Regions from separate parts of the Homo sapiens genome. Here region 1 is linked to region 2. Evidence: fine-mapped expression QTL. A gene starts in region 2. The other region holds a variant in brackets. All regions are shown on one strand. Distances are between the middles of the regions. Region 1 has its middle 66 kb from the start of SMOX. Region 2 holds the start of RNF24 (ring finger protein 24).

What was found. PIP is the estimated chance that this variant, and not a neighbour inherited with it, causes the effect.
Region 1: its variant is fine-mapped to the expression of RNF24 in blood mononuclear cells (TOPMed, PIP above 0.99).

The regions. Positions count from the first base shown.
Region 1 is chr20:4,081,819-4,084,723 of GRCh38, reverse strand. No RefSeq gene overlaps it. Among named protein-coding and RNA genes, the nearest start is that of SMOX, 66 kb to the left of the region's middle. RefSeq lists enhancers at 1,373-1,872, 1,873-2,374, 2,288-2,487 and a cis regulatory region at 1,306-2,003. The variant T/C (reference allele first, on the strand shown) is at 1,509.
Region 2 is chr20:4,013,991-4,016,895 of GRCh38, reverse strand. RNF24 (ring finger protein 24) reads left to right here and starts at 1,338. Exons shown (of 6, transcript NM_001134337.3): 1 at 1,338-1,459. RefSeq lists enhancers at 1-212, 416-1,348 and a silencer at 1,232-1,831.

The DNA.
Region 1 (2,905 bases), 68 kb before region 2:
TGAAATTTGCAATGTACTGCCTTTCGACTACAGGGCTTTCACAGAGCAGAAATCTGTTGCTTATTTGATCTGAAACTTCAGTGCTCAGAGAAAATATTCACCTCGGTCTCATTGCATCATTCTCTGAAGAAGGGCCTCTGGGTACCAGTGGCCAAAATCTCATCCTCTTATTCCAAAGATTGGTTCCCCTCTCTGTCTTCTCTCTCTGCGTGTTTATGGCACCATTCTTCCCCAGAGACCTCAGCTGGAAATCTCAGCCTCATATCTAATTCCTCTCTCTTTCTTCCCCAGATCAATCCAGACACCCATCAGTTCTACCTTCTAAATGCCTCTTGATCCTGTTCTCTCCTCTCCACCCCATAGCCACTGCACTGGCCAGGCCACCATCTTTGCTCACCCACACAATTGCCATGTCACAGTTGATCCCCAGATTCCTGTTCTGAAGATACTACTGTCAAGCCCCTGTGCATGGTGTCCTTCAGGCTCATTCGCTTCACCTGAGGGCCCAACCAGGCAAGCTCTCTCCCTGCTGCCTCCTGCCATCCCTACTTACCCCTCTGGACCTCTGCTCCTCTCCTGGCACCTGTACTTCCTGCAGCTCCTCTCTAAAATTTACCAAAATACTCTATCTCCACTTTCACCCTCCCAGGAAGCTCTCCCCAACCAGGCCATTCAAGTAATTCCTTCCTCTATAGCATCTTATTCTTCACTATCCAAGCTTACCTGGGGCAAAGTCCTGTGTTCCCGCAAAACTGTGAGCTCCTGAAGTCAGAGTCAGTCTTTGTCTCCTCTTTGGCCTCAACTAGTGCCTGGTCCCCATGAAGGACCTAGAAGATACCTGCTGCATGGCAGATAGAGCTAAAGGCATCAGTGGCATGGTTAAATCAACCTATGACACCTCAACTCTCAGAAATATGGAGTAGATGTGTTTTTTCCTATTCTTTCCAGTAAATATGGCTAAAAACCCTAGATACTGCCTATAAAACAAGCATCTGAAAGCAGAGAGAAGAAGGCAAACCAGCTAGGGACTTTGGGGCCTAGGGAATGACACAGCAATGAGTTCTCTGGGTTTATCTTTTTGGCTCATATATCCCAGACAGTGTGCAAAGAAGCCAGCATTCTGGAAACAACAATGGGAATAGATGCCCCACAAAAGCCCAAGAAAATCCTGCTCTGCTTGCCAAAGGACCAAGATGGAGTGGCCTAGCAAAACAGAAAACTTTTAGACAATGATCGTTCTGTGCCAGCCAAATACCATAGGAAAAAATGTAAGACCCCACCCCCACCCGCACCATCAAAGGCTGAGTGGGGAGCCTCGGCTTCATGGCTAGGCTCAGGCTGGACTTCACGGCTTCAGGCTATCATGAGGTTTCAATCTCCTTCCCCCTGGCCAGGCTAGTGTCAGAAAAAGCTGGGTGGGAAGCCAGGACTTTTATCCCGCTGGGCAGCAATGAGGTCTCCCTTCCCAGGGGTGTCAGTGGAGACCACATGGGAAGCCTGGACTTTCA[T/C]TCCCAGCTGGTGGTAACGGAGCACCCCTCCTCCTCTCCCCCGCCCTCCTCCTCTCCCCCGCCCTCCTCCTCTCCCCCGCCCCCCTCCTCTCCCCCGCCCCCCTCCTCTCCCCCGCCCCCCTCCTCTCCCCCGCCCCCTCTCCAGTGGTCTCAGAGGAAGCCTGGTGGAGACTCAGGACTTTCGCAACTGCCAAACGGTAACAAGGCTATCCTGCTTCCCCACAGTATCAGTGGAGGTCACATGTGAAGCAGTGACAAGGGAACTCTGCCCCTCCCAGCCAGGGTGTTGTCGATGGAGACCTAGTAGGAAGCCTGAACCCTACCCACTGCCCAACAGTGATGAGGCGCTCCTTCCCTGACCCTGACTGTCAACAGAGGCAGAGTGGGGAACCTGGACCTTCACCTCACCTGACAGGAACAAAGTAGCAGCCCCTTTCCCTAGAGCAAGTCAGAGGAGGCCTCTGCTAAATCAGATTTAAAGAAGCTCCAAGGTCTCACAACAGAAACTCAAAATGTTGAGGTTTCCGTTGAAAATGACTCATCAAACCAAGAACCAAGAAAACCTCAAATTGAATTAGGAAAAATAATCAACAGACACCAGTGCCTAGGTGACATGGATATTAGAATTGTCTGACAAGAATTTCAAAGCAGCCATCATGAAAATGCTTCAATGAGCAACTACAAACCCTTGAAAAAAACACACAAAAATAGAAAGTCTCAGCAAAGGAACAGAAAGTCGTGGGTCTCAGCAAAGAAACAGGAGACATAAAAAAGAACCAAATGGAGGCCAGGCACAGTGGCTCATGCCTGTAATCCCAACACTTTGGGAGGCTGAGACGGGTGGATCATTTGAGGTCAGGGGCTCAAGACCAGCCTGGCCAACATGGTGGAAACCCCATCTCTACTAAAAATACAAAAATTAGCCAGGCGTGGGGGTGCCTGCCTCTAATCCCAGGTACTCAAGAGGCTGAGACAGAAGAATCCCTTAAACCCAGGAGGTGGAGCTTGCAGTGAGCCGAGATGTTTGCGCCACTGCACTCCAGCCTGGGCGACAGACCAAGACTCCTTCTCAAAAAAAAAAAAAGAACTAAATGGAAATTTTAGAACCAAAATATACATCAACAAAATTTAAAATTCAATGGATGGATTGAACAGCAAAATAGAGATGACAGCATAAAGAATTAGTGAACTTGAAAATAGAACAATAAGATTACCCAATCCAAGCAACAGAGAGAAAATAGTAGAGAAAAAAATGAACAGAACCCAAGAGACTTGTGAGGCTGTAACAAAAGATCTAACATTTGTGTCACTAGAGACCCAGGTGGAGAGGTGAAAGGATCTACATTTGAAAAAGTATTTGAAGAAATAATGGCTAAAAATGTCCCAAATTTGACAAA
Region 2 (2,905 bases):
GAGTGGCAGACACAAGGCGATGGGAACAAGAGAGTATCTGCAGAATACACTGCCTGCTAAAGACAAGAGAGGACTCCCCAGATCCTTGCCTTGGTATTGCAGGAAGAGCTCAGCCTCCCAAAATCGGAGGTCAATTTATTGCCTGCCCTGTAGAATGGGAGCCGGAGGTTGAGGAGTGGATGTAAATAAAGGAATGCACTGTTTCTTGCACACACCTCTCTCCACTATCTGGGCAGAGTCTAGGTCTCATCCATCACCAAGGTTCTAGCACTCAGCTGAGAGGCTGCAGCAGGAGGGGCAGATGGAGGAGGGTGCGGTGCATACCATCTCCCCATCAAACCAATGGGCACCACGTGACCATTCTTGTGTCTCTGGGGACTGTCAATCTGCATGCTAGGAAAGGGGTGGCATTCCAATCTTTCATTTTTTTGTGTGTGAGACGGAGTCTTGCTCTGTCACCCAGGCTGGAGTGCAATGGTGCGATCTTGGCTCACTGCAACCTCCGCTCCCCGGGTTCAAGAGATTTTCCTGCCTTAGCCTCCCGAGTAGCTGGGATTACAGGCATGAGCCACCACACCCAGCTAATTTTGTATTTTTAGTAGAGACAGAGTTTCTCTATGTTGGTCAGGCTGGTCTGGAACTCCTGACCTCAGGTGATCCACCCGCCTTGGCCTCCCAAAGTGTTGGGATTACAGGCGTGAGCCACTGCGCCCGGCCCCATGCTTTCACTTTTAAAAATGCTTGTAGGGCACGCAAAAATACTAAACGGTCGATGGAGAAGGTCTGTCTGGAGTAGTTGTTTTTTTTTTTTTTTTTTGAGACAGAGTCTCGCTCTGTCGCCCAGGCTGGTGTGCAGTGGCACGATCTCGGCTCACTGCAAGCTCCGCCTCCCAGGTTCAGGCGATTCTCCTGCCTCAGCCTCCCAAGTAGCTGGGACTACAGGCGCCCGCCACCACACCCGGCTAATTTAATTTTTTGTATTTTTAGTAGAGACGGGGTTTCATCGCGTTAGCCAAGATGGTCTCGATCTCCTGACCTCGTGATCTGCCCGCCTCAGCCTCCCAAAGTGCTGGGATTACAGGCGTGAGCCACCTCGCCCGGCCTGTCTGGCGTAGTTCTAACCAGGAACAGAGCCAGCGGCCAGGGCCGCACCAGGCCTGGCCAGGGAGCGCCGCGCCTGCGCACTGCAGACTCTGAAGCCGCCGAGCCCTCCGCCGAGGTGGGTGGGGAAACTGCCCGGGCATCCGGGTCCCTCACCCCGCCCCCGCTGCATGAATGAGAGGCGCGGCGCCCGCCCCTCCCCCGGCGGGCCCGCCCCTCGCGAGGGGCCGCCGGGCGCAGTCAGCCGCCGCCACCTCCGCCGCGCTCTGTCCGGACGGACGCTCGCCGCCCGCAGCCTGCCGCCCGCCGCAGGGCGCTGACGGTCCCGCACGTCTGCCGCTGCCACCGGCGCGCCCGAGTAAGTGAGCGAGCGAGGGCGGGAGCGCCGCGGCCGCCGCCCCCGGGCTGGGGTTTGGGGGACCGAGCCGCTCCGGGTTCGGGATGCTGAGGAGACCGCGGGCCCGCGCCAGCCTCCCACACACACACACTCTCCCGGCGCCTCGGCCGGCCGGGCGCGGTGTGCAGGGGTGAGGCGGTGTCTCCAGGCTGAGGAGGGACGCGGAGGAGGGTCCGGCGCGGCCCCGGGACTGGAGGGTGAGTCCCTCACAAAGGGCGGAGCGGGGCTGTCACCTGGAGATCACGGAGGGAAGGTGCGTGGGCCCCCGCACGTCCTGCTCGCCCAAGCCCTGGCATCGGGTCCCCGGGCGTGGGAGGCGGCTGGGATGAGCTGGGAGGCTAGGAGGAGGATGGCGAGGACGCTGCCCCCGCGTTGGCGGTGGGCGCGCGCCTTGGGGGGTGCGGCGTGGCAGTGTTTTCCTGGTCCCCGTCCACTCCTCCCCTTTCTTTGTGGCGCTTGTCTCGTGCCCCGTTGTCACAGTGTGCATGGCAGTGGTCGGGGTGGAGACCTCTTCCCTCGGCTTACTCATTAATGAAAGTCACCATCTGTGGGCAGGGGGCGTGTGTGGTTCCACAGGCCGGAGAATTAAGGACCCTCCTTTGTTTCTGGAGACCTAATGATGTGTGTGTGTGTGTGTGTGTGTGTGTGTGTGTGTGTGCGCATTCAAGTGAAAGGGACATCTATGAAATGAGAGAATCAGAGATTGTCAAAAAGGGTATGAGGAAAAGGGGAGGGGATATAACTTCATCACACCTTTACCCAATTCTTTACCTGATGTTATTTCAAACAGTTTTTTCTCACTGTAAAACCAGTGGGTTTTATTCATTGGAAATGTGCATCTAAATTCTCATATATCTGTGTTTCTAGAATACTTTGCCTTTTTGGGCTTAGTTAATGGTAAGATTCTCATGTCTGTCTACATAGGAATACTCCACCGTACAGGACACTGCTTTCTGGGTTTAGTTCATTGATAATTTGTCCGAATGCTCATAAACATGTCTATAGGAATACTCCAATATATCTAGGACACAGTTTTCTCCGCTCCTGAATACAGGCAGATTTTGTTTCTTTCTGCCTCCCTGTGTTAATGAGAAGGTAGTCCAGCAGGTTCTCTCTACCTCCTTGCTTTTTTTTCCCCTTAATGCTTTGGCAGAGGGTTTTATTGCATATTACCCTGGCATGCGCCCTTGCTTTGATGTGAATTTTCCTGTGTTCTGTTGTCTGGTTGTACAGCCCAGCTCAATGGCTCCTCTTACAGGACTACTGGAAAACAGAACACCTTTTTTCATTGTCCTCATCTCCAGAGAGAGAAGGAAGCGCTGTAGGTTCCCACAAACGTTGACTCTGTCAGACTGCCTGCCTGACTTTGTTGTGTTGGTAAAGTTATGAAGAGTTGCAGTTGTTGTA